2 linked regions of the Homo sapiens genome follow. The protein of the gene in region 2 binds, or shares a complex with, the protein of the main gene of each other region. Each region holds a gene or a part of one and is shown on either strand. Other genes may lie near its edges.

The links.
Region 1: BRF2 (region 2) and BDP1 share a complex: the UniProt entries of both Homo sapiens proteins name them as parts of the TFIIIB complex.

What each region holds. Positions count from the first base shown.
Region 1 is NC_000005.10:71,505,160-71,515,781, reverse strand, and holds part of BDP1 (transcription factor TFIIIB component B'' homolog), read right to left. Parts: intron 6,318-10,622; coding exon 4,631-6,317; intron 3,542-4,630; coding exon 3,354-3,541; intron 2,598-3,353; coding exon 2,375-2,597; intron 839-2,374; coding exon 660-838; intron 1-659. UniProt on the Homo sapiens protein: General activator of RNA polymerase III transcription. Requires for transcription from all three types of polymerase III promoters. Requires for transcription of genes with internal promoter elements and with promoter elements upstream of the initiation site.
Region 2 is NC_000008.11:37,846,862-37,857,334, forward strand, and holds the start of BRF2 (transcription factor IIIB 50 kDa subunit), read right to left. Parts: upstream 3,001-10,473; 5' UTR 2,923-3,000; coding exon 2,769-2,922; intron 1,795-2,768; coding exon 1,735-1,794; intron 315-1,734; coding exon 1-314. UniProt on the Homo sapiens protein: General activator of RNA polymerase III transcription. Factor exclusively required for RNA polymerase III transcription of genes with promoter elements upstream of the initiation sites.

The sequences.
Region 1 (10,622 bases), on a different chromosome or scaffold from region 2:
GTATTTAATGGGTAGAGAGTTTCATTTTATGAAGATGAAAAAGAAAGTCTAGAGATGAATGGTGGTGGCAACGGGACAACAATGTGAATACACTTAATGCCACTGTATATTAAAAAATAGTTAAAATGGTAAATTTTATCTTATGTGTATACTAATTTTTAAAAGTTAATGAATATATATAGCTTATATACATATAAGCTGAGTAGCCCTATCCAAAATGCTTAGGACCAGAAATGTTTCAGATTTCAGATTTTTTTAGATTTGGAAATATTTGCATTATACTTATCAGTTGAGCATCCCTACTTTGAAAATCCAAAATGCTCCACTGAGCATTTCTTGAGCATCATGTCAGCTCTCAAAAAGTTTTAAATTGTGGCACATTTCAGAATTTTTTATTAGGGATGCTCAACTTGTAGTTTTTAAATGCATTGCTTTGTATACACTCTTACGCAGCTGACAATGCAGATAAGCAGGCAACCATTAGAAGGTGTTGAATTCAATCTGATATTATATTTTAGGCAGTCTGCTGTATCAATAAAATTAAACCAATATTCTTTATGTTCACTTTTTAAATGCATTAACATATCTCAATAAAAATTAGAAATATTTAAAAGAAGTATCTCTCTTATTTTATATTGTCAAAGAAAATCACTGTTTACCCCACAGAAACAACTGAGTCATTTTTCTGGACTGGTGCTGACTGAGACTCCTCTTTAGGTTCACAAGAATTTGAAGGTGAAAGGTTCCTTTCAGTCTGTGTACATGGCAATATCACAGCCTCCTCATTCCTGTGACCTAATGTGTCTTTTTCTCTTGATATCATTAGGGAAGCTTCATCCTAGAAGACAGAAAAAAAATTTCATTCACAGTTGCTAAAAGTATAAGGAAATAAGAACTTTACAAGTATAAACTGATATCATCTTCGTGAAGAATAATAGGGTAGTCTATACCAAAATTCTAAATTCCCAGCAATTCCACTTCTAGAAATGTATCTTATAAATACTCAACAAGTAGAAATATACACACAAAAATATTTATTGTAACAATTTAAGCACCACCTCCCTCACCGGAAAAGACAAACAAAAAAATCAGAAATAAAACAGATATATCATTAGGGGATGGAATAAATAAATTTTAATTTCTTTACAATGCAATAGTACCTAATCATTTAAAAGAAGATATATCTCTTTGTACTGATCTAAAAAGAAGCTCACAATACTGTAAGTGGAAAAATCAGAAAGCAAGAATTAATGTCATTTTGGAAAACAATAAAAATACCTTCCCATTTTATCATTTTATAACTGTAAGACGAAAAAGTGTAAGTGGATATATTCAAAATTGCTGTATGATTAACTTGGGGGAAAGGGACGTGACATTATAAAAGACTCTCACTTTTTAGAATACATATATTTTTCCAAATTAAAATTTCTATAATCAGAAAGTATAATACAAATGTAACTTATCTTTTATGAATATAAGCTTAGGAGAAATAGTACAAATGTTGATGCACAGTAAAGTACTGAGCTATTTTAAGACATCAAATAAGAATTTTAATTCTAAGAAGGACTTCCACTGAATGTGGAAAACATTCAGTTTATAATTATTCATTTCGTTTCAATGTTTTTTTGATGGTATGTCACACAATCTTAATCTGTTATGGACCAAGTTAATAAAGTAAATAAAATATCACCTTTAACTCAAATCAAGCTTTTAACTCTTCATTTCACCTTCACAAGAGAGTGAAATAAAAAACGATTATTCTCGCTGGGCGCCACGGCTCAGCGTAATCCCAGCACTTTGGGAGGCCAAAGCAGGCAGATCACGAGGTTAGGAGTTCGAGATCAGCCTGGCTAACATAGTGAAACCCCATCTCTACTAAAAATACAAAAAAAAAAATTAGCCGGACATGGCAGCACGCGCCTGTAGTCCCAGCATTCAGGAGGCTGAGGCAGGAGAATCGCTTGAACCTGGGAGGTGGAAGTTGCAGTGAGCCGAGATCGCGCCACTGCACTCCAGCCTGGGAACAGAGTGAGACTTCATCTCAAAAAAATAAAAATAAAAAAAATAAAAAACTATTATTGTCATTTTTTCTATGAAGAAAATTGTTTAATCAATGGTCACATAGCTGGAACTGGAACCAGAGCCCAGACCTGAACGCTTTCCCACAACACGTTTGCCCATTATCAGATATCTGAGATTCTTACACAAATTATGTGGAACAATGAGGCACATTAAGCATGGGAGCAATATCACATGCAGCAAAAATTACACAGAAATATTTGTAGAATTTTAATGCCAGGTGCTTTTAGTAGTCCTAATAACTTAAAAAAAAAAAAAAACACCCACACAGAACTTCCATCTCAAATACACTCACATGTTGAGAAGGGAGAGTATCAGTTTGTTCATTATTTTCTTGCATCACAATAGTCTCCATTTTCTTGGTTTCTGATTTCTTCTCATATATATATTTTTCTGATTCTGTAGTCTCTCTCTTCAAAGCTGCTCTTGCTAAGTTTGGTTTTGGTCTTTTGAATCGGCTCCTCACAAAAGGTGCTGGTTTAATTTCAAGTGGCTTCTGTTCTTGAGGAAGAGATTTGCTTTTGGAACAAGGATTATCAAGCTTTAGAATGAACTGAAGGGGCAGTGGAAACGGAGTCTCAGTACAACCTTAGAGACTGGCGGTAAACATTTAATTTTTTTTTTTTTTTTTTTTTTTTTGGAGACAGGGTCTTGTTCTATCCCCCAGGCTGGAGTGCAATGACACAATCATAGCTCACTGCAGCCTTGACCTCCGCGGGCTCAAGTGATCTTCCCATCTGAGCCTCCCAAGTAGCTGGGACTACAGGCATGTGCCACCACACCCAGCTAGTTTTTGTTTTTTTATTTTATAGAGATGGGGTTTCTACAGCGTGTTGCCCAGGCTGGTCTCAAACTCCTAGGCTCAAAGGATCCACCCACCTCAGCCTCCCAAATTGCTAGGATTACAGGTGTGAGCCACCATACTTGGCCTAATTCTAATTCTTAACAGGAAAACAAATCGAACTATCTGGCAGATCCTGAAAACCATGAGTGGTACAATCCAGGTATGAGCCTAGGAATTACACCATCTCTGCACAAAGAAAATATGAGTCTATCAAACCTGTATTGATTTAAGACTGTTACATACAATTTTGTATGTCAGTAACTTTCACAATTGACTGTCAGAGTGACCTCAATCCTCTCTCCCAGTCTTCCCAAAACTATCTTAAAAGCTCTAACACTATCCTGTATATGTTATATCTTGAAACCTCACTTAGTTTAACGTAATCTGCAACTATAACTTAATATCTTTTTCTTTAAAAACACACTTGTACCTTAAATTAATATCTGAAAACTGCTCTGGAACATCTGGAGATTGAATCCCCTGGACTTCTGTTTTATCAGATTCATGAGTCTGTGAAGAAATCTTGAAATGACTGAAGTGACTTGATACTTCTTTTTCAGAATTTCTTTTTTCTTCTACAGGTGTATGCATCATCGACAGTACTTCACTGCTAATGTTCTAGAGGAACAGTCATAGTAAATCAGCACAAATAAAAGAGTATTTAAACATCTTATATATTTAAAACAAAAGTCTACTAAATTCTAAACACTTTCCTTTAAAACTTTAGAAGTTTTTAATTTTTGAATAAAATTTAATTTCCAAATGTTAAAACTTGGAATTCAGGAAACCCTTTTATGTTGCATATTATTACTTTCCCAAACCACAAATGTCATTATCTATTTTTAAAAGTTAGAAAAAAAAAAAAGTCCTTGAAAATGTTAGAAGATCATGAACTTCAAAGTAACTTGAAAAAACAAAAAGAACTTTTAGAAGTGAAGTAAGTCAGGTGGGGCAAGAAACAAAAGCAGATACAGATGTGGCCAAAAGAAATAATGTGTGTTCACGCTAGGGTTAGTACAAATTCAGTCTAATTTCCTATTCTTCTTTTACCTAAAAGAGTAACTTCAAATGATATTAAGAACAGTGACATTTTTGAGATCTCAAACCTAAGCCAAAAGAAAAGTTTGATCCTTGCCCATCTGACTTAAAGAAAAAAAATAATAATAATAACAGTGACTTTTTCACAGTTGGAAATTATTTTTATTTCTTTTTGAGACAGGGTCTCACTCTGTCACCCAGGGTGGAGTACAATGGCACAATCACAGCTCACTGCAGCCTCAACCTCCAGGGTTCAAGTGATCCTCTCACCTCAGCCTCCCAAGTAGCTGGGACTACAGGCTTACACCTTGTTATTGTATTTTATTTTTTATTTATTTTATTTATTTTTATTTTATCTTATTTTTTGTAGAGACAAGGTCTCTCTATGTTGCCCAGGCTGGTCTCAAACTCCTGGGCTCAAGTAATCCTTCCACCTTGGCCTCCCAAAGTGTTGGGTTTAAAGGTGTGCCCAGCCTAAAGTTATCTTTTTAAAAAAGAACATACAGTTTCTTCAAGGCACTGAAACATAGAAACTTAGGGCTACAAAAGACTTTAGACTTTTAGAGATTTTTAAGTGTTGTTGGACTTAAGGACAAAATAATCATGGAATTATTTATTTCCTCTGAAAAAAGCATTCAAAAAACTTTTAAAGGACAGAAAAATACATACCTGAATATCTAGTGAAGGCACAGCACTGAAGTCATTGCTACCGCTCTGCATTAAATGTGTGTCAGTTTGTCTTGAGGTACTGGTCTCCTCTAGCTCGTTTTCCCTTGGAGAAATGTCTGTTTTTCCAGTTTGTTTCAATTCTGCCACCTTTTCCTCAGTAACACAGATCTCTTCAGATCCTCTCTCTCTAAAATTTTCTTTTCCAGTTTCTTTCAAATCTGCCTCCATTTCTTCAACAACAGCCATCTTTCCTGATACTTTCTCCATGATGGGAATGTCTCTTTTTCCAGTTTCTTTCAAATCAATCTCCTTTTCCCTTATAGCACTGAACTCTGCTAGCACCTTTTCCCTTTGGGAAATTTCTTCTCTAATTTCTTTCAAATCTGTCTCCATTTTACCTACAGGCTTGACCTCCTCTGGGCCATTTTCCTGTGGCGATATTTCTCTTTCAGTTTCTTCCAAATCTGTCTCTATTACCTCAGCAGCATCAATCACCTCTCGTGTCTTCTCCCTTGAGGAACCCTCTCTTCCAGTTGTTTTCAAGTCTGTCTCCATTTCATCTACAGGCTTGACCTCCTCTGGGCCATTTTCCTCTGGGGATATTTCTCTTCTTCCAGTTTCTTCCAGATCTTTGTCTATTTCCTCAGTGGCATCAATCACCTCTGGTGTCTTCTCCCTTGGGGAAATCTCCCTTCCGGTTGCTTTCAAATCTGTTTGCATTTCACCTAGAGGCTTAACCTCCTCTAGGCCATTTTCCTGTGGGGATATTTCTCTTTCAGTTTCTTCCAAATCTATCTCTATTTCCTCAATGGCATCAATCACCTCTGGTGTCTTCCCCCTTGGGAAACTGTCTCTTCCAGTTGCTTTCAAATCCGTCTCCATTTCACCTAGAGGCTTGACCTCCTCTAGTCCATTTTCCTGTGGGGATACTTCTCTTTCAGTTTCTTCCAAATCTATTTCCTCAGTAGCATCAATCACCTCTGGTGTCTTCTCCCTTGGAGAACTCTCTCTTCCAGTTGCGTTCAAATCTGTCTCCATTTCATCTACAGGCTTGACCTCCTCTGGGCCATTTTCCCTTGGGGATATTTTTCTTCTTCCAGTTTCTTCCAAATTTTTGTCTATTTCCTCAGTGGCATCAGTCACCTCTGGTGTCTTCTCCCTTGGGGAACTCTCATTTCCAGTTGCTTTCAAATCTGTCTCCACTTCACCTAGAGGCTTAACCTCCTCTGGGCCATTTTTCTGTGGGGATATTTCTCTTCTTCCAGCTTCTTCCAAATCTTTGTCTATTTCCTCAGTGGCATCAATCACCTCTGGCGTCTTCTCCCTTAGACAAATCTCTCTTCCCATTGCTTTCAGACCTGTCTCCATTTCTATGGTGTCATCAATCACATCTAGAATCTTCTCCCTGGGAGAAATGGCTCTTCTTCCAGTTTCTTTTAAATCTGACTGCATTTCTTTAGTATTAATCTCTGCTGGTACCATCTCCTTTGGTGAGGTGTCTAGTCTTACAGTTTCTCTCAATGCTGCCGCCATTTCCCCAGAGACAAGAATCTTCTCTAGTACCTCTTCCTTTGAGGAAATTTCTCTCCTTCCAGTTCCTCTTCCTATATTTGGCTTTGGTTTCTGAAATCGAGTCCTTAGAATTGGGACTTGGTTAAGTTTATTTGCCTTATTATTCTCTTGAACGCTATAAAAAAAAAAGGGGGCACACAATCAAGTTTTAAACCAGACTGCCTGCTGAAGAGATGATGTTTGAGAAATCACTACAGAAACACCAGAAACTCTCAAATTCAAAAAAATTAAGGAAGGCCTAGGAATCGCTGGGTAAAATTTAAAAATTAAAAGAAAAAAAATCCCACCTTTTGAAATCACAGCAATAAGTTTAAATATATATATATATCTAGTAAGGTCAATCAGTATAGAAGCTATTTGATCCTAACAGTGTCTTTCCAATTGTCATTCACACTACCATTTATAAATACTGACTGGGAAAGACTCTCCAGTTCTCTGCATTGGAGCTAGATTGATGTATGTCTGCTATTTCTACCTCTTCATCCCTTCTATCTTTTATACAGACAAATGGTTTGCCATAATAGACCTGACCACCTCAAATACCTGGATACAAGTATGACTTGACCAAGATTAAATCTTAGGACTACAAATGAGGTCTGCCCTCCTCACCTTTTAAAACCAATTTTATATGAGATTTCCTATACAGATAGTTCTCTAAAGGCTTGTTATTTCATAACATAAGTAAAGAATCAAAGGACAGACCAAATACACAATAATACTTTGCTGAATGCTACTGGGCACACAACCACTATCCAAAGCAAGCACCTTGCTCTCCAGAAAAGCAGCAGCACTTTTTGTTTTGCTTTCTGTTTATTATAATAGATGGTAAAATCAATAAACATATAAATGAATGAAAGGGCTTTTAAATGACTGGTTAGGAAAAGTTATTAATATTGGGCAAAAGCTAGATCAAATGAAACACTAGATTGTATTCGGCCATGTCGGACTGAACAGGTATATAACTATACATTCAACAGCTTAAAAAAAGACGTATTGAGCTGGGCATGATGCTTCATGCCTGTACTCCTAGCACTTCAGGAGGCTGAAGCAGATGGCTTGAGCCCATGAGTTTTTGGTAGAAATCCCATCTCTACAAAAAAAAAAAAAATTAGTCAAGTGAGGTGGCGTGCACCTGTAGTCCCAGCTATTCAGGAGGCTGAGGTGGGAGGATCACCTGAGCCCAGGAAGGATGAGGCTGCAGTAAGCCATGATCATGCCACTGCACTCCAGATTGGGCAAGAGAGCAAGATCCCATCTCAAAACAAACAAACAAAAAACAAAACAAATAAGCAAAAGATTTACTTAAAAGTATGCTAGGCTGGGCATGGTGGCTCAGCCTGTAATCCCAGCATTTTGGAAGGCTGAGACAGGTGGATCACTTAAGGTCAAGAGTTTGAGACCAGCCTGGCCAACATGATGAAACCCTGTCTCTACTCAAAATACAAAAATTAGCAGGGCGTGGTGGCACGCGCCTGTAATCTCAGCTACATGGGAGGCTAAAGCAGGAAAATAGCTGGAACCCAGGGGGCGGAGGTTGCAGTGAGCCAAGATCATGCCACTGCACTCCACCTGGGCAACAGAGTAAGACTCTGTCTCAAACAGAAACAAAAACAAAACAACAAAAGTATGCTATTGCTTGTTTCAACTTCTTTAGGTCCTATACTATCCTTCCTCACTGAAATAACTGTTTTCAATAATGCAATTTTTGATACTGTAAGACAGGTCCTTAGGAATAAGATTGCTTTTCAAATTGTACTTGTTTACATAACTGAAGTGTTTATATCCATCATTAACTTTAGCAATTGACAACGTTAAATGTAAAATTAACAGCAATCAATAAAGGAAATTTAATTTGATTAGTCCTGAATGGACCGCATTCCATTTTTTGATTTATGATACTTTTCATCTCCATCCAGAAACATCTAGCTTTTAGTGAGATTACTGTGCTAGCAATCTTGGTTTGGGTACCATGGGAAGAGATAAAATAAACTATCTTTATAAAGTCACATTTTGAAAACAGGCGTATTATTTAAACATATAAATGCTTGAAGCAAAGGCTTTATTAATAATTTCATTATTTCCATAACAGTTCAGATTGTAAGATACAGATATGCAATGTTATAATTATATTCTATGTGCTTAGATTTTTTAAACTGCCATTCCACCAAAGCAATAGATTGATTGTTTCTAAGTAACAAAAGAAGTACAGAATTAACTGAAGGGCAGTATCTGAGACTGGATATCAGATATAAAATTGAACTAGATTATTTCTCAACTTAAAATATACAGTGGATCTACGAACTTTCCTCAGATCACAAATTTGAGAAGAAAGGCAAAACAAGAGGATCATGAATGGAGAAAATAAGGTATGGAATGAGCACAAAACTATAAATGTGCTTTAAGGTCTGCATATGTGTTTTTCTAAAACACGGAGTTTAAGAATCTATAAAATATTCATGGCCAGGCGTGGTGGCTCACACCTATAATCCCAGCACTTTGGGAGGCCAAGGAAGGAGGATCCCTTCAGCCCAGGAGTTCAAGACCAGCCTGGGCAACATGGCGAAACCCTGTCTCTACAAAAAAATTTAAAAATTAGCCAGATGTGGTGGCATGCACCTGTAGTCCCAGCTACTTGGGAGGCTGAGGCAAGAGGATCAATTGAGCCCAAAAGGTGAATGCTGCAGTAAGCCATGATCACACCACTGCACTCCAGCCTGGGTGACAGAGCAAGACCCTTGTCTTTAAAAAAATATGGGTGTGTGTGTGTGTGTGTGTGTGTGTGTGTGTGTGTGTTTCAAATATATATATATATATATATATAAACCTCCAAACAAACATCACCAAATCACCAATCATGACAAAAAACTTAAAATATTTATATGAAGTAGGTAAGATGCAAAATTAACCTAGAAGATTAAATTTCAAAGAAATACTCACTAGTTTATCTAATAAAGTACCTTTTCTTTAATAGAGATGGGTCTTGCTATGTTGTCCAGGCTTGTCTTGAGTTCCTGGCCTCAAGTGATCCTCCTGTCTCAGCCTCCCAAAGTGCTGGGATTATAGGTGTGAGTCACCATGCCCAGCCTAAAGAATTTTTAATGCATTCTTTGAGAGACTATTTTCCTACTATCTCTCTTACATAGCATCTTGAACAGGCCAACATATGTGGAGTAGGAGAGGGGGAAAACTTTCTGTTAGACATAGGTGTATAATTTGATAAAACACAGAATCTTAGAATTGCTTTTGAGGATTCTGGAGATTCAAAGGCTAGAAAGGTCACATGACAAAGCAAAAATGACACTGCCCATGGAGAGGAAAGTTGTTGAGATCAGATTGAGTATTAGTTACAGTGTCCACCAGTGTTCTAAAACCCAGAGGCCATTCAGAAAAGTTTAATTTTCTACCAAGCCACAGTATCTATTAATAGACTCTAGTTTAAACTGAAAAAATATAAATAAAAAGAATAATTTGTTAGCTAACTGTAATTAAAATCCATATCAGAGATATGCAGCAAGCAATGTAGTCATACAAACTTCTACCTAGAGACTGTGTGCACATTAGTAAAATAATCCGGGCAGTGGGGAGGAATAAGAAGCAAAGGAATAGTGAAGGCAACAAGAAATAGAGAAATTTTTTTGTCTTCCAATGAAGATCTTTAAAGTAGTTCAGGAAACCTAGCTTTCACTCTCAGGTTAGGTACTTTTCTTTTTTGGAGGGACAGGAGTCTGTCTCACTTTGTTGCCCTGGCTGGAGTAAAGTGGCCCATTCATAGCTCCCTGCAGCTTCTAATTCCTGGGCTCAAGCAATCCTCTTCCTTCAGCCTTCCATGTAGCTAGATAGGCATGAGCCACCATGCCCAGCTAGGTACTATTTAAATAGGCTAATACAGCTGTAAGAAAGTATAGCATAGGCTAGCCTTTAAACGTAAAGACTGGTAAATATTAATTACTGAAACTGGACAGCAGGTATATGGGAGTCCACTACTGCACTTTTGCGCACATTAAACATTTCCAAGTTGAAAAGTTGAAATAGTATACCAGTAATTCCATCAGTCTGGCTTGGTACCCTCCAAGGAAGAAATAAAAAATAGAAAAGACTTTGACTATAAGCAGTATGGGTTTCTATACATAAGTTTTAAATAAAATTTATAAATCTTAAATAAAGGCAATATGTGCTCAATCTAATTCCAAAGAAACAAATATTTTAAAAATAAGTAGCATTTTACATTTGAACATAAACATATATTTCAATATGCATGTTAAGTGATAAAGCTGGCTGGGTGTGATGGCTCACACCTGTAATCCCACCACTTTAGGAGGCCGAGACAGGTGGATCACTTGAGGTCAGGAGTTCGAGACCAGCCTGGCCAACATGGTAAAACCCTGTTTCTACTAAAAATACAAAAATTAGCTGGGCTTGG
Region 2 (10,473 bases):
ATAGGTCTTCACCAGTTCTGCCAAGCACAGAGATGGCACATCCAGTCCCAGGAGCTTCACTATCTGCATGTAAGTGCTAGAAAACACATCCAAATCTGCATACAACAGCGTGCAGATGGCCCCCATTGTTAGGGGCCAGTTATGCTGTCGGCAGGTGATTAAGACGCAGCACCCAACCAACACCTCCTTCTTTTGCAGCCTGGCCGCTCGGATGCCAGAGTGCCGATATGCCTGTTGGTAGTAGGCAACCGCGGTATCCTCAAATGTTGGTGGCAACTGCAGAACTCGACAAAGGTCTCTCACTCGCCGGAGACCTAGGAAAAACCCACGGCAAGAGTTAGAGGGGTCAAAGGAGCTATCGTGCAACTCCTAGAAAATTCTGCTAGGACTTACTTAGATCTGCTAAACTTGCCTCAGATATCAGATGCACAAATTATGTACCTTTCTGCATAGACAGGAGTGACACTTGGTATAGTCATTCTAAAGACACAAAAACATTTGTGTAAAGAAGTCACATTTCAGCCCACTAGTTTTTGCAGGCTGGTTTGATTCAGGGCCAAGCCCAAGTTTTATCCAGGCTCTTAGAGGCTACCTCAAACATACGTCTGATCAAACCCAAACCTTATACTGAATTGCTGCCTCTCTCAGAACCATCCCTATTTGTTTTATTTATTTTATTATTTTCTGAGACAGAGTCTGGCTCAGTTGCCCAGGCTGAAGTGCAGTGGCGCCATCTTGGCTCACTGAAACCTCCTCCTTCCAGGTTTAAGTGATTCTCCTGCCTCAGCCTCCCGAGTAGCTGGGATTACAGGTGTGCACCACCAGGCCCAGCTAATTTTTGTATTTTTAGTAGAGACGGGGTTTCACCATGTTGGCCAGGCTGGTCTTGAACTCCTGACCTCAAGCGATCTGCCCGTCTCGGCCTCCCAAAGTCTGGGATTACAGGTGTGAGCCACCATCCCCATTTTAAATTCCTAATTACCATTCTCTTCTACTCTACCTCACACCAGCAATGCTGAAAATAGGAAAAGTGAAAAGCTGGGCTAGGCCACCAGGATAGTTTTCTTTTATTATTATTATTATTATTATTATTATTATTATTTTTTGAGACAGAGTCTCGCTCTGTCACCCAGGCCGGAGTGCTGTGGTGCGATCTCGGCTCACTGCAAGCTCCGCCTCCCGGGTTCACGCCATTCTCCTGCCTCAGCCTCCCGAGTAGCTGGGACTACAGGCACCCACCATCACGCCCGGCTAATTTTTTTGTATTTTTAGTAGAGATGGGGTTTCATCGTGTTAACCAGGATGGTCTCAATCTCCTGACCTCGTGATCCGCCCGCCTCGGCCTCCCAAAGTGCTGGGATTACAGGCATGAGCCACCGCGCCCGGCTCATTATTATTTTTTTGAGATGGAGTCTCACTCTGTCACCCAGGCTGGAGTGCAGTGGCGCGATCTCAGCTCACTGCAACCTCCACCTCCCAGGTTCAAGCGATTCTCCTGCCTCAGCCTGCCAAGTAGCTGGGACTACAGGTACATGCCACCATGCCCAGCTAATTTTTGTATTTTTAGTAGAGACGGGGTTTCGCTATGTTTGCCAGGCTGGTCTTGAACTCCTGACCTCAGGTGATCCACCTGCCTAGGCCTCCCAAAGTGCTGGGATTACAGGCGTGAGCCACAGCACCTGGCCTAGGATAGTTTTCTTTAAAGCCACTGTGTTGTAAAAGGTCAATTCTCACCTCGTTGCTGGCTGCGACTAACTTGTTCGTTTTCCCCTGTGCTTCGGGAATATGTTACCTCTGTAAGATAATAAACAACAAATAGTGTGCTTAGCCTTTATTCATCAGACCCCTGCCCTCCCACCACACAAAACCAGGACGCAAAATTCAAATCATTGAGCATCTGCTGCTGCACAGTTAAAGGCCCCATCTGGTTTTCTATGTCTACAAGAGGTTCCGAATACACAGAGACTGGGAAAGGTTAGGACTGCATTAAAGCAGCTCCAAGTGTTCCAAATTTCCAGTCATCCTTCCAGTACATTCCATACAGGCAATTTTCCTAGCAGCAGATTTTGTTGTTGTTTGTTTAAGGAGTTTCCCTCTATAGTCCAGGCTGGAGCACAGTGGTGCGATCACAGCTCACGGCAGCCTTCAACTTCCAGGCTCAAGCAATCCTCCTACCTCAGATTCCTGGGTAGCTGGGATTACAGGTGTATGCCACCATACCTGGCTAATTAAAAAAAAATTTTTTTAGGCACTTGTCTCGTTACGTTACCAAGGCTGGTCTCGAGATCCTGGGCTCAAGCAATCCTCTCGGCTCTGCCTCCCAAAGCACTGGGATTACAGGCGTAAGCCACCCCACCCAGACAATGGCTGCAGATTTTGAGGGCTGCACTGGTCAGAAACTTGGAAAGCAAAGAAAAGTGATGTTTTGCCAGTTTGTGCTTAAAACTATTTCAGGGTAATAATACCTGCTATAATCGTATCGGCAATCCTTCCACAATGACCAGACATGGCAAGATGAGTGGAACTTTTGTTTCTGTCTCACTTATTCAATATTTATTACACGCACCATCTATGCCCGATACTAAGTGCTGGGAAAACACAGATGAATGGCAGCCCCCATCTCCTTCAGCTCCCTCGCTCACTTTAGGTCATTTTCTCTCAAATTAAGTGTGTGCGTTACAGTTAGGAGTATGGGGGGAGCGGGGAGGCAAAAGGAATCTGATGTTAATCCCTCCACCGCCCCAGGCTGTCCCCAGGGCCACAAGTACCTCGGAGATTGCCCTCGTCGCTGAAGGTAGTGGTAAGGACCCCCTCGGTGACCACGCAGCCGCAGTCGGAGCACACCAGCTGGCTCTGCGAATAGTGCGAGTCTTCCACCAGCTCCGTGGAGCCGCAGTCCGGGCAGCGGCCTCTGCCTGGCATCTCACAACCGGCCCCAAAGCCGCGGAAGCCTTCAGAGACTCCTGGGTCTGCAACAGCAACCGTGAGGCAGCAAGAAGTAGGAGGGGACACTTCAAAGGGTTGCACCCCCGTCTTCCGGCCAGCGCGACGGAGGCATAGGCGGTTCCCTCCGCTGGGAGGCTGCGCGCCACTTCCGGTCTGTGCCTCCGCGGGCTCGGGTAGAAACGTGAGCTAGGAGAGGAGGTTCCTGGGCTGAACTGTAGCTGTCTGGTTTCCCTGCACTCTGTAGTTAGTTTTTGGGACCTAGACTGGGGTTGAATTTGGGAAAGTTTTTGCCTACATGGACACGTATAACAGACAGAAGATTGTTGTCACCCCTGAACAACCCTCCTTTTAAAGTCCTAAGGGAATCGCAGGTTGGTAATGAATGTTTAATTGGCCATAGAAGAAAGTATATTTTTTAAAGGGAGAGTAGTGGAGAGAGAGCGGGAGCAGGAAACTGTGTTCTGCTTTCCAGAGCTGCTTCCTAAAGCAGATTCCTTCCTCTCTTTACCTCCTGTTTTTCTCAACTGTAAAATGAGGAAGTTGAAAAAAAAATCCAGAGATGCAAACCCAAACGCTTTTGGAGGCCAGGCAGGAATGTCTAAAGGAGTTTGGAGTGAAAGAATATGGAGTGATGGAGACCTGGAGCGGCGCAAGCACGCAGATTCAGATGTTTTTTAAAAAACCTTGAGCTATCTGGGCGTGGTGGCTCACGCCTGTAATCCCAGCACTTTGGAAGGCCGAGGCAGGTGGATCACCTGAGCTCGGGAGTTTGAGACCAGCCTGGGCAACATGGTGAAATCCCGTCTCTACTAAAAATACACAAAAATTAGCTGGGCGTGGTGGTGCACGTCTCTAATCCCAGCTACTCAGGAGGCTGAGGCAGGAGAATCGCTTGAACCCAGGAGGCGCAGGAGGCGCAGTGAGCCAAGATCGCGCCACTGCACTCCAGCCTGGGTGGCAGAGCGAGACTCCATCTCAAACAAAATAAAACATACCTTTAAGAAGTGTCACTCCCTTCTTTTCCACACCCAGTTTTTACACGTGATATCCAAACCTAAAGACACCATCCCTTCCCTAAGAGACTGCTTTCTCAGAGTGTGAGAATCACTACTCCTTTTCAGAGACATCCCGTCCATTCCCATGGGGATCGCTCACATTGGAGGGCCAAGAGACACAATAATACCCAACGGTCCTTTCTCTTCAATTTGAATTACTTTAGTATCATAACAGAAGGGGGCTTCAGCACATTAATCGTGGGTGGGATCCGGCAGTCCAAGCCCCCCCGCCTTTTCTAGACCTCCCCACTAGCGTGAGATACAGGATGAGAGCTTATTTCTGGCTGTCTGACAGTTAAATATTAAGATACATTTGCACATGCGCACCCGCACACACACACCACTCAGAGACATCCATTAGTTTTAGTGTGGTTGACATTCTTATTTGGATGAAGAAAGTGTCCCTGAAAGCGACATAACTTGCACTGGGAACAGTTCCTTGCATGATCACACAGCAGAGCATCAGACTCCCCTCATCCCCAGTTGTGTGCAGATCTTGAACCTACCTTCACTTTTTTTTTAAGCGGGACTTTACAGAGCCCATCTACCTAGGACAGAAGCCTTGAAATCCTGCCTGACCCAACCTGATTGATTGTAAAGTGGAAAAGCAGTTTTATGATCCTGCAGCCAGCCACGGAAGGAGAAAGCTGGTTGTCTTTCCCAGTCACACATGATGTACTTACTGGGAGCCTAGGAGAGCCTGGTCCTCGGGCACACACAGGCTGGGAGGGGGCAGGGTCCAGGCCAGAAGATGGCGCCCTCTACTAAGATGTGTAAGTTTGGGGTTCTCCACTTTCTCAGGAAGAAGTCCATTTATTTGGGAAATGTATTTGCCTTGCTCCAGGAAATCTGGACAGACGTGGAAATCATCTTGGTGCCCTCTCCACTGCTCCCAGTTCTTCTAAGAGTTATCATTCCTGGTAGTGATTATCTTATTTTTTAATTTTATTTATTTATTTATTTTGAGAGGAGTCTCACTCTGTCGCCCAGGCTGAAGTGCAGTGGCACAGTCTCAGCTCACTGCAGCCTCCACTTCCCGGGTTCAAGCAATTCTTCTGCCTCAGCCTCCCAAGTAGCTAGGACCACACGCGCCCACCACCATGCCTGGCTAGTTTTTGTATTTTTAGTAGAGATGGGATTTCACCGTGTTGGCCAGGCTGGTCTCAAACTTCTGACCTCAGGTGATCTGCCCACCTCGGCCTCCCAAAGTGCTGGGATTACAGGCATGAGCCACCATGCCTGGCAGTGATTATCTTTTTAACAGATGCCCCGAGTGCCCAGGGTGGGCTTGGCCAGAGCAGAAAGCTAGTCATGGGGAGGCCATTGAACAGCAGCCCAGCTGTGGTCCAGATGTATAATGCTGACATTGAGGCCAGAGTTCTTTGTAGAGGGGAGAGTAGAGGAAGGCACTGAGGAAGAGGAGGATCTGGCACCTGAATGCAGTCCTCTTCCTCCCTCGATTGGCTGTGTACATTCTAGTTCGTTGTTTGACTTTCTCTTTGAATGGAAGTCTCTATGGGAACAAGCTGGCTTTCTCATCCTTGTGTCCCCAGGAGTACCTCCTAAAGTGAGGGCTGGCATTCAGTAAAGAGGAGTTCAACTCCCGTGAATTCCTGTCCTAGGTGGGCCTATCCAAAGCACCAAATGGGCCAGGCACGTGGCTCATGACTGTAACCCTAACACTTTGGGAGTCTGATGTGGGAAGACAGCTTGAGGCCAGGAGTTCGAGACTGTCCTGGGCAACATAGTGAGACCGCAGCCCCTCTCAAAACAAATAGCAGGGTATAGTGGTGTGCACTTGTAGTCCCAGCTACTTGGGAGGCTAAGGCAGGAGGATCACCTGAGCCCAGGAGTTAAAAGGTTGCCATGAGCTATGATTGCACCACTGCACTCCAGCCTGGGTAACAGAGTGAGACCCTGACTCAAAAAAAAAAAAAGGATGAAGAAGAAGGAGCACCACATAGACCCAGTTCCTCTGAAGCAGACCCATTTCCATCTAGAGCAAGTGACTGCTGAGAGTGGGCTGCTCTCCAGGCCTGCCTTCCAGCCTCAGCCCTGGGCTCCTCTCAGCTTAGCTGATGATGCTTTGCGACCCCGACCCAGTTTCACCGAGCCCTGAGTACAGCTCGCACGGTGGCACTGGGCCTGGCAGTTGCCTCAGATTTGGAGCCTTTCTGACTGGACTTCCTTCCCACCACTCTTTAGTGGGCACTTCCCGATGAGATAGCCTCAGGGCAGAGCATGGCCAGGGCTTCCCAAATCCCCGTGCCAAGCACCTTTCCTCACTCATATGCAGCTTCCCCTCTGCATAGTTTAGTCTGCCCCTCCCAGCCATTTCTCTCTGGGCTAAAGATTCACACGTTCAATTTCTTGAACTCCTAGGAACAAAGGCATCTGGTAACTCCAGGAAGGTGGTCACAGCACAGACCTGGTGCACTGCGTAGTCCAGGGCAACCTGACCTGGAACGCCTCTCTGCTGGGAGGCTGAGGCTCATCTGGCCTTATGGAAAGTCCTGAGAGAGGATTGAGTCATATGGCCTCCATTTTCCTTGCCCGCCCCAATCCTCCGCAATTCCAAGTAAATGATATAATGTTATATTCCTGCCCCTCAAAGCGATCCTAGCCTAGGGGTTGGCAAACTTATTCTTTTCTATTTTTTAAAAATATTTTTAATTAAAAAAATTTTTTTTTGTAGAAACAGGATCTCACTATGTTTCCCAGGCTGGTCTCAGACTCCTGGGCTCAGGCGATCCTCCTGCCTCCGCCTCCCAAAATGCTGGGTTTACAGGCATGGGCCACCACACCCAGCCATCAGACTTACCCGGCCATCATACCTTTTCTATAAAAGGCCAAATAGTAAATATTTTGGGTTTTTGGGACAATAGCTACTCTGTTGCAATTACTCAACTCAGCTGTTGTAATGTGAAAACAGCCATAGACAGTTACGTAAACAAACAAACGGTCATGGCTGTATCCAATAAAGCTTCATCTATGGGTGCTGAAATTCAATTTCATATGATTTTTTGTTTTGTTTTAAAACCAAAGTTTATTCCGGCCAACTTATCGTACTGGTATGATAACAGCTCATAGATCAGAAATGGTCTGTTTTAAACCTTCCTATCCATATTGAACACAATGATGTTGAGGTAAAAGGGGCCCTTTCTTCTTCTTCTTCTTCTTTTTTTTTTTTTTTTTTTTTGAGACAGGGTCTTGCTCTATTGCCCAGGTTGGAGTGCAGTGGTACCATCTCGGCTCACTGCAACCTCCATCTCCTGGGTTCGAGCAATTCTCATGCCTCAGCCTCTTGAGTAGCTGGGATTACAGGTGTGTGCCGCCACACCCAGCTAATTTTTGTATTTTTAGTGGAGACAGGGTTTCACCATCTTGGCCAGGCTGGTCTCGAACTTCTGACTTCAGGTGATCCACCCACCTCGGTCTCCCAAAGTGCTGGGCTTATAGGCATGAGCCACTGCACCCAGCTGAGAGACCCTTTCTCTAAATGAAAATACAATACTTATCCTATGTACTTCTGGAGGGTCCAGAGATGTGGAAGTCATGTATTCGTAAGAATCGTATTAAACAATCTTTATTTGAAAAATAGTACCAATAGTACCATACAATCCTAATGCTATCTAACTTTAATAAGAGCAATTTCAGCATCAACTAGTGAACAGTAGCTAAACTAACAGAAATCAGTCAGAAGTGCTTTAACAGGAGCAGCACTGGCTGACATTCTGCTGGGTCTCTAGGTATTCAGGACCCAGGGAAAACAGAATCAAACCGGCAGGGGTGAGAGCTGAGAGCCGAATGGTCACGTTAGAAAGGCAGCACCCCGGCCTCCAGCAATGAGCAGAGTGACTCAGCCTCCATCTCCCGTCCCTCAGGAGCACAGTGAGCTCCTGCCCAGGACCCATTTCTCGGCTTCCCTTCACCAGACTCCCACCAGATCCCCACCGGACGATGGTGGTGGCCTCTCTGGCCCTACCGGGGACTGGGAGCAGGGAGGGGAAGGGTGGCTGACGGGCATGAGGTGAGCAGGCAGCCTGTGGTCTCTGGGTGCAGCCTGGTCTGGCCAAGGCGCCTCCTCAGGGCCCGCCCCTGCCCTGGTACAGGCCTCTATATAATTTTCTTTCCCCTGACATGGAAGTTTCGTTGTGTCGCCCAGACTGGAGTGCAGTGGCATAATCTCGGCTCAATGCAACCTCTGCCTCCTGGGTTCCACCAATTCTCCTGCCTCTGCCTCCCAAGTACCTAGGATTACAGGTACCCGCCACCATGCCATGCCTGGCTAATTTTTTTTTTTTTGAGACAGAGTCTCGCTCTGTTGCCCAGGCTGGAGTGCAGTGGTGCGATCTCGGCTCACTGCAAGCTCACACCATTCTCCTGCCTCAGCCTCCCAAGTAGCTGGGACTACAGGTGCCCACTACCACGTCTGACTAATTTTTTTTGTATTTTTAGTAGAGATGGGGTTTCACTGTGTTAGCCAGGATGGTCTCGATCTCCTGACCTCATGATCCACCTGTCTCAGCCTCCCAAAGTGCTGGGATTACAGGCGTGAGCCACCACACCCGGCCTAATTTTTGTATTTTTAGTAAAGATGGCGTTTCACCATGTTGGCCAGGCTGGTCTTGAACTCCTGGCCTCAGGTGATCTGCCCACCTTAACCTCCCAAAGTGTTGGAATTGCACATGTGAGCCACTGCACCCAGCCCTCCATATAATTTGTATGTGTCATGAAATACTGTTGTTTTGGTTGTTTTCTTTATTTTTTGGAGACAGGGTCTTACTCTGTCACCCAGGCTCCCTGCAGCCTTAAACTCCTGGGCTCATGCAGTCCTCCCTACTTGGCCTCCCAAGAAGCTGGGACTATAGATGTGCACCATGCCCAATTTATTCATTTTTTATTCTCTATTTTGTAGAGATGGTGGTGGGGGGCGGTCTCACTATGTTGCCCAGGCTGGACTCAAACTCCTGGGCTCACAGTATTGTGCCTCAGCTTCCGAAGTGCTGGGATTACAGGCGTGAGCCTCTGCACCCAGCTGACTTTTTTTGAAGCATTAAAAAAAAAAATGTAAAAACCATTCTTGACTTGAAAAGGCTGTACAAAAACAGGAGGCAGGCTGTAGTTTGCTGACCCCTGTTCTAGGCCTGCAAGTCAGACAGGTTATAAGATCGAATCCTCTCTTAACAACTCACAGTGTGACTTAGGCAAATGAGAGTGCTGCTGCCTCTCTGGGTCTGTTTGCCCAGCTGCACGATGGAGACATTGACCTGAATGAGAATTATTAAAAATAGTACACCTCAGTGCTTCAAGAAGCAGGCCTTCCTTTTGCAGTCAAGGTTTAGCCTGAAGTGAGCAGTCCATAAGGACAGAGGCAGCTTATTCTCAACTCTGAGAGCCATATCATGTCCCCAAGGCGATTCTTTCCCAGGCTCAAGACACAGGTTTCTGTGTAAAGTAATAGAAAGTCAAAAGGCCGAGTAAGGACATATCCCCTTAGGAGGCTTTTTGGCATTGGGAAACCCTGCCCTCAAAGGGCTCAAGGAAGCCAGTTTCGAGTCAGAAGTGATAGTTCATGACGTCCCAGTAGGGGAAAACTGCAGGGCCCAAAAGCTGACACCCGCAGAGCAGCCCAGGGGCAAGCTGCCTGTGTTGAGAGACTGGGTCCAAGGGCTAATGGCGGCTGTCGTGCTGACCACTGGCCCCAGTAAAGAATGGTAACCACGCCCGGTAAGTGACTGTTTTCCTGGTTGGGAGTGGGCAGGGTGTCCCCGGCAAGTCCCCACTTTGATCCACAGGTGGCTATGATTATAACCTGGGCCGGAAGGGACCTAGATTATCTTTGTGACTGCTGCAGCTTTTTTTTTTTTTTTTTTTTTTTGCCAAAGGGAATTGTTAGCCAGGAAAGTTTCTCCTGGGAATCCTATCAGTCCTTGTCGCAGAACACACATAGCTGCCAGCTACCAAGTCGTGGAGATACGTTCAAAACAGTACAGACGGTGTGATCCTATCTTCCTTGTAAAGTGTGGCTATTTACATGAGAGGAAAAATCCTGAGACAAGTCAAAACTACAGTGGTTACCTCTTGGTAGTGAGGAAATTAGGACTTTTTTCTTTTCCAAGAACAAACATGTTATGCTGTTACTTAGAAAAATCTGGAGTGAGGGCTGGGAGCGGTGGCTCATGCTTGTAATCCCAGCACTTTGGGAGGCGGAGGCGGGTGGATTGCCTGAGGTCAAGCTGGCCTCAGAGACCAACCTGGCCAACATGGTGAAACCCCATCTCTACTAAAAATAGAAAAATTAGCCAGGCATGGTGGCAGGTGCCTGTAATTCCAGCCACTCAGGAGGCTGAGGCAGGAGAATCGCTTGAACATGGGAGGCAGGGGTTGCAGTGAGCTGAGATTGCAACATTACACACCAGCCTGGGCGACAAGAGTGAGACTTCATCTCAAAAAAAGAAAAATCTAGAGT